Linked DNA regions of Homo sapiens. The protein of the gene in region 1 purifies or fractionates together with the protein of each later gene. This does not show direct contact. Each region holds a gene or a part of one and is shown on either strand. Other genes may lie near its edges. The genes, in order: BLTP3A and MAGEA4.

Evidence for each region.
Region 2: the proteins of BLTP3A (region 1) and MAGEA4 purify together in Homo sapiens (co-immunoprecipitation; one large-scale study listed by IntAct). This does not show direct contact.

The regions. Positions count from the first base shown.
Region 1 is NC_000006.12:34,872,083-34,875,048, forward strand, and holds part of BLTP3A (bridge-like lipid transfer protein family member 3A), read left to right. Parts: intron 1-230; coding exon 231-356; 3' UTR 357-2,966. UniProt on the Homo sapiens protein: Tube-forming lipid transport protein which probably mediates the transfer of lipids between membranes at organelle contact sites. May be involved in the retrograde traffic of vesicle clusters in the endocytic pathway to the Golgi complex.
Region 2 is NC_000023.11:151,919,098-151,923,117, forward strand, and holds part of MAGEA4 (melanoma-associated antigen 4), read left to right. Parts: intron 1-495; exon of another isoform or gene 496-625; intron 626-3,428; exon of another isoform or gene 3,429-3,534; intron 3,535-4,020. UniProt on the Homo sapiens protein: Regulates cell proliferation through the inhibition of cell cycle arrest at the G1 phase. Also negatively regulates p53-mediated apoptosis.

The DNA.
Region 1 (2,966 bases):
ACTAGAGGATAAATGTCAGGAGCTGGAGACGAATGGTTGCTGAGGACATACTGCACCTGCCAATGAACTATGAAGAGGGAATCAAGGTCTTAGAAAAGATATGGTTATCTTAATCATTGACATAACTTGTGGATTTTTCTCCTTGAACTCTTCCTCCCTGTTCCCTTTACTGGCGGTTGTTGCAAGATGGTATTACCGTATTTAACTGTTAACTACTTATTGTTCCTCAGGTGAAAGAACTGCCTATCCTACAAAAAGAACTTATAGAAACTAAACAAGCCTTGGCCAATGCCAACCAGGATAAAGAAAAACTTCTTCAGGAGATTAGGAAATATAACCCCTTCTTTGAGCTCTGAAACCAGTGGCTCAGCCATCTGTGCCAAGGAGAGAGGCTATCACCAGCAATAGCACCACCTAGGACAGAGGGCACTGTCCAGTGCTGAATAAGTCACTACGGATGCCAGAGGGACTGGGGAGCACTCACTTCACTTGTGTGGGTGTGCTTTCCACTAGCTGTTCTTACTTGGACTGAGGACAAGGGCAAAGCATGATTGTATCCCAGGAAACTGGGGCTTGCCCTGTGTGTGGCACAAGCATCATGTCTTGCCTGTATAAAGCCTTTTGGTCCTCTGTGTACTAGGTGGAATCTTCTCAACACTGTAGGGCCATTTCACCTCATGGTTTCATGGCAGGGACATTTGCTTCCTTCACAGGCCTGTGTGAACAAGCAAAAGTACCCACCTCCTCGGTCACCCACAGAGCCACCAAAGATTCCATGTCCCAGAGCTTCCCATAGCAGACCTGAAAAGTCCATGACCTGAGCTTTGGCCATGGTAGTGGAGTGGAACAGGAAATAGTCCAGCAGAGGAGTGTGGGGGAAGGGGGCAGGAGAGGCACAAGAATAAGGGAGACCTGGACTCTGCCTTTTTGGGAAAAGGAACCAAGCTCATAGCAATTTGGCTGATAACACAATCAGATTTTTCCAGGTTAAGCTTCCTTTCTGTTATACTTTCATCATTGTGATGCTGTGGTAGAAAGTAAATAACAGTAGTGGCTCAGTCATTTAATCTTTCCCCTCTATAATACAACTTACTTGAAATTTAAATCAAGAAAAAATTTCTGACGCTGAGCTAGGTTGGTGGCATGATATGCCAGGGGTCAGTGGGGGAGCTTGCTTCTGAGCCCCCTGTTGTCCGCCTGGAGTCCTGCTTGTCTTTCCCAGCTGTGCTGAGTGGCTCTTCTGTCTCCCTGGGGTCCCTGGCACATCTGCTTTCCCAGCTCTGTGACCTTACCAGTTCTCTCCTCAGCCCTTGGTGGTTTGGGAGCTGAATATATGTTTTAAACTTTTACATAAACAACTCAACCTGTTGCCTCTCACTTCCCTCCATCACTGTGGCTTTTAAAACTCATGTATTTTGACTCAAGTGAAAAAAACACAAAAATCCCTCATCCCAGCTAGGTTTTGCCCCCTGCCCTATAAGAGAGCTATTTCCCCCTTTCTTTCCTTTGAATTCTTCTCCAACACCATCCCTTCATTCATACTGCCCTGTGATACACTTGAAGCTGTGTTGATTGGACAGACGTTCATCAGCTAACTTACCTTTACTTGGCAAGATGGTAAAATAGTAACTTAGTGATGTTACTAAAGTCTCGACCATTCACCTTTCCATACTGAAGGAAAGGTAAAAAGGTTTCTTCTATGGGAAATTATGCTTGACTTGCATACTCTAGTTTGATGAGGATAAAAAGAAACATGTAATTGCAGTGGTGTTTACAACTAATTGATCACAACCAATCATAGATTTCTTTGTTCCTTCTCCACTCTCAACACTTCATTTGACTAGAAAAAAAAAATGTATTCACCAAGGAACAGGACCCAATTTGTTCAGACTTTTGTTAAGTTTCTTTACTAAGGCAATTTTTGAAACACCAGTTACTATGGGATGGTGGGAATTTTTCATGCTTAAGAAATAGAGACTTAGGAACAAAGAAACATCTTTCTGGAGAAGATGCTAATGGGAAGTTACCTAAGGCTTGATGCTTGGTTCAACCTTATTTAAAATTTTTATAAATGACCTGAAAGTAGGATTTTACAGTGAAATCAAATGTCACTACTTCCAGGCAGTGAAAGGTAATCTAGAAGAGGTTTAAAAAACACAAAACCGGTCGGGCACAGCGGCTCACGCCTGTAATCCCAGCACTTTGGGAGGCCGAGGCGGGGAGATCACGAGTTCAGGAGATCGAGACCATCCTGGCCAACATGGTGAAACTTTGTTTCCACTAAAAATACAAAAATTAGCTGGGTGTGGTGGTGGGTGCCTGTAGTTCCAGCCACTCGGGAGGCTGAAGCAGGAGAATCGCTTGAACCCGGGAGGCAGAGGTTGCAGTGAGCCGAGATAGCGCCATTGCACTCCAGCCTGTCAACAGAGTGAGACTCCGTCTCACAACAAACAAACAAACACAAAACCACAGAAGGGTTACTAATAAGCAGGGCTGAGAATACTCAGAAAACTGACAGGTGAGGTTCAACATAATATAAGGAAATGTATTTATGGAAGAATTATCAACTGATATGCCTGAACACTGTTAGAACTCAGGAAAGAAACAAGCATTGCTGAGGGGGAGGAGAGATCAATGTGCTGCTGTGGCCAAAAGCCTAATTGCCCTGTGGGCATCATCAGGAAGGGCTTTTGGAGATAACAGAGAACAGCACTTTATACAAAACCATGGATATGTCTTGATCGGATTATCTGTGTTTCTAGTGACCTTATTTACAAGATATATGATAAAGGGAGGAAAGGTCCAGAGAACAGCCAAAATTATCAGGGGATGGAGGTATATCCATATGAGGACACATTTTTAAAATATAGACTCTATCCTGCAAAGATGAAAGCAGAGGGGAGTTAGATCAAATATCCAATCAAGAGCAAGGACCCGGTCCTGTACTACTAGCTCTAGGGCTCTAT
Region 2 (4,020 bases), on another chromosome or scaffold:
CCGCACCACTCCTGCTACCAGCCGTGGGCCACCCGTGGGCTGACTTCTGAGTCTGGGGCGCCCTCCACCCCACTGCGTCTGAAGTCACATGGGACTCTGGAGTCCGAGCTTGGGGTGGTTAGTGTAAGACTAGTGAGGGCAGGCTCTACGAGGCATCAACCTCAGGACCCTAAGAGAGGGCTAAGCGTACCCCACCCCCATTCCCATCCCCCACCCCCTCCCCTTTCCCATTACTATTTGCACTCCCAAACCCATCCGCGCCCCCATCCCCCACCAGGCTCCTATCCTCCTCAACCCCGCACCTCTCTCACACCACCATCTCCCACCCCAAAACCCGGGCCCCTCCACCAACCTCACCTCTCCCACCCCCATCCACACTGAATCAGGTTCTGCTTCCGCTTTCAACCCACCCCCAAAACGCGCCCCCTCCACCGACCTCACTCCTCCCACCCCCATCCACGCTGAATCGGGTTCTGCTTCCGCTTTCAACCCAAGAAAGCCGCAGGTGCCGGAATGTGATGCCACTGACTTGCGCATTGGGGGTTAGAGAAAAGCGAGCTGCTCTGTCTGACCAGCAGCTTGGGACTGGTGGAGGGAAGCGGGCCAGGCCCTGTGAGGAGTCAAGGTGAGACGCTGAGGGAGGACTCAGGAGGCCCCCACCGCAGATAGACAATCCCAAATAATCCCGAACCACTCATGCTCCCAGCCCTGGGCCACTCGTGGGGGGACTTCTGAGTCTGGGGCGCCCACCACCCCACTGCCTCTGAAGTCGCACGGGACTCTGCAGTCAGAGCTTGGGGTGATCAGTGCAAGACTGGTGAGGGCAGGCTCTGCCAGGCATCAACCTCAGGACTGTAAGAGAGGGCCGAGGGTCCCCCACCCCCATTCCCATCCCCCTTCCCATTCCCATCCACACTCCCAACCCCATCTACACCCTATCCCCCACCAGCACCCCTATCCTCCCCAAACCCCCACTACCCTTATGTCCTCATCCCCCACCCCAACACCACTATCCCCATCCAGGTTGAATCGCATTCCGTTTCTGCTTTCAACCCAGGGAAGCTCCAGGTTCCTGGATGTGATGCCAGTGACTTGTGCATTGGGGGTTAGAGAGACGCTAGCTTCTCAGTCTGACAGGCAGCTTGGGATTGGCAGAGGGAAGCCGGTCCAGGCTCTGTGAGGTGGCATAGTGAGAAGCTGAGGGAGAAGTCGGGAGGCCCTCTCCACCCCAGATAGACGACCCCAAATAATCCGGCACCCCTCCTGCTTCCAGTCCTGGGCCACCCGTGGGCGGACTTCTGAGTCTGGGACGCCCACCACCCCACTGCCGCTGAAGCCGCAGGGGACTATGGAGTCAGAGCTTGGTGTGATCAGTGCAGGACTGGTGGGGGTAGGCTCTGCCAGGCATCAACGTCAGGACCCTAGGAGAGGGCTGAGTGTCCCCCACCCCCATTCCTATCCCCTACCCCTTTCCCATCTGCACTCCCTACCCCATCTGTACCCCCATTCCCCACCTGTGCCCCTATCCTCCCCAACCCCCCAACCAGCCTCATACCCCCCTCCCCCACCCCTACCTTCATCCCCATCAGCGCAGCATCCGGTTCCACCCCTGCTTTCAATCCAGGCAAGCCCTGGGTGGCCGGATGTGATGCCACTGACTTGTGAATTGAGGGTTAGAGAGAAGTGAGTTTCTGGGTCTGAAGGGTGGCTTGAGATCGGCAGAGGGAAGGTGGCCCAGGCTTTGTGAAGAGGCAAAGTGAGACTCTGAGGGAGGATTCAGGAAACCCCTATCCCTGATAGAGGGTCCCAGCCCTGGACTACCCCGCGGAGGCTGACTTCTCAGACTGGGCTGCTCCCCACCTCCGCCCCCTTCGCAACGCGTTTGTTTAAGCCACAGGGGACTCTGGAGTCAGAGGTTGGTGTGATCAGGGAAGGGCTGGTTAGGAGAGGGCATGGCCCAGGCCCTGCCAGGAATCAAAGTCAGAAACCTGAGAGGGAACTGAGGTCCCCCAAGATCCTAGTCTAACCCCCACTCCCACAAATCCGCTGCCATTTCGCTGCTCCATTTCCCATTCCTTGCCCTCCACCCTCACCAGGCAGAATCCAGTTCCCCTTCTGCTATCAATCCAGGGAAACCCCAGGCTTGGTGCTGGGATGTTTTTTGGGGGTCAGAGAATCAAGGGCATAGTCCTGAGGGGCCAGTTGAGATCGGCTGAGGGGAGCGGGCCCAAGCTCTGTGGCGAGGCAAGGTGAGACTCTGAGGAAGGACTGAGGAGGCCCCCACCCAAGATAGAGGAACCCAAATAATCCAGCGCAGCTCCTGCTGCCAGTCCTGGACCACCCGGGGGAAGACTTCTCAGGCTAGGCCATCCCAGCTCCCACTGCCACTAAAGCTACAGGGGACTCTAGAGTCAAGAGCTTGGTGTGCCCAAGGCAGGGCCCAGGCTCTGCCTGGCATCGGGGTCAGGACCTTGAGAGGGAACTGAGGGCGCTACACCCCCACCCCATCCGCATTCCAACATGCCCAGCCCCATCCCCAACTCCGTTTTGCAGAATCCATTTTTTCCCCTGCAGTCAACCCCGGGAAGACCTGGGAATGGTCAGGCACTCGGATCTTGACATCCACATCGAGGGCTGAAGGAGGGAGAGGGTTTGGTATCATGAGCAGAGCCTCAGGGTAGCAGAGGGAGGACCCTGGCCCTCCTGGGAGATGAGGAAGGCCTCAGGAGACCCAGCACCCCAAGGCAGGGAGCCCACCCCACCCCGTCTGAGAATGAGGTGCCTCCTCTTTTAGCCTCAGGAATCCAAGGGATGGCAACTCAGGTCAGCAGAGGGGTGGGTTCCAAGCCCTTCCAGGATCAAGGAAAGGAAGACGAGGGAGGATTCAGGGGGCCTTGCATTCCAGATCAGTGGAGACCTGGGCCCTGGGAGGTCCTGGGCAAGGTAGCCACCTGTAGCTCATACTTCCTGCATCTTCGAGGTCACAGAGAGGAGAGGGCTATGGTCTGAGGGGTGGTACTTCAGGTCCGCAGAGGGAGGAGTCCCAGGATCTACAGGACCCAAGGTGTGCCACACTTCACGAGGAATGGGGATACCTGTGGCTCAGAAAGACGGGACCCCACAGAGTCTGGCTGTCCCCTGTTCTTAGCTCAGGGGGGACCAGAGGAGGGATGGCCCTATGTGCCAATTTCACTTGTTCCACAGGCAGGAAGTTGGGGAACCTTCAGGGAGATGAGGTTTTGGAGTAAAGGGGCAATGTTTGCTCATCTCAGGGGGTTGGGGGTTGAGGAAGGGCAGGCCCTGTCAGGAGCAAACATGAGTACCCCACAGGAGGCCATCAGAACCCTCACCCCAGAACCAAAGGGGTCAGCCCTGGGCACCCCACACAGGGGTGACAGGATGTGGCTCCTTCTCATTTCTGATTCCAGATCTCAGTGAGGTGAGGACCTTGTTCTCAGAGGGTGACTCAGGTCACCACAGGGACCCCCATCTGGTCTACAGACACAGTGGTCCCAGGATCTGCCAAGAGTCCTGGTGAGGAATGTGAGGGAGGATTGAGGGTACCACAGGGCCAGAACGCAGATGATGACCCCACAGAAATCAGCCCTGCTCCTGTTGTCACCCCAGAGAGCATGGGCTTGGCTTTCTGCTGAGGTCCCTCTCTTATCCTGGGATCACTGGTGTCACGGAGTGGGAGGCCTTGGTCTGAGGGGGCTGCACCCAGGTCAGTAGAGGGAGGGTCCCAGGCTCTGCCAGGAGTTGAGGTGAGGACCAAGCAGGCTCCGCATCCAGGACACATGGGTTCCAATGAATTTCGACATCTTTTGCTGTCGTTCTTCGGAAGACCTAGGCACAGGTGGCCAGATGTGGGGTTTCTTAGGTCCTGTTCCCTCTCAGGCATGTGAGCTCTTGATCTGAGTTTCTCAGGCCAGCAAAAGAGTGGGATCCAGGCCCTGCCTGGAGAAATGTGAGGGCCCTGAGTGAACACAGTGGGGATCATCCACTCCATGAGAGTGGGGA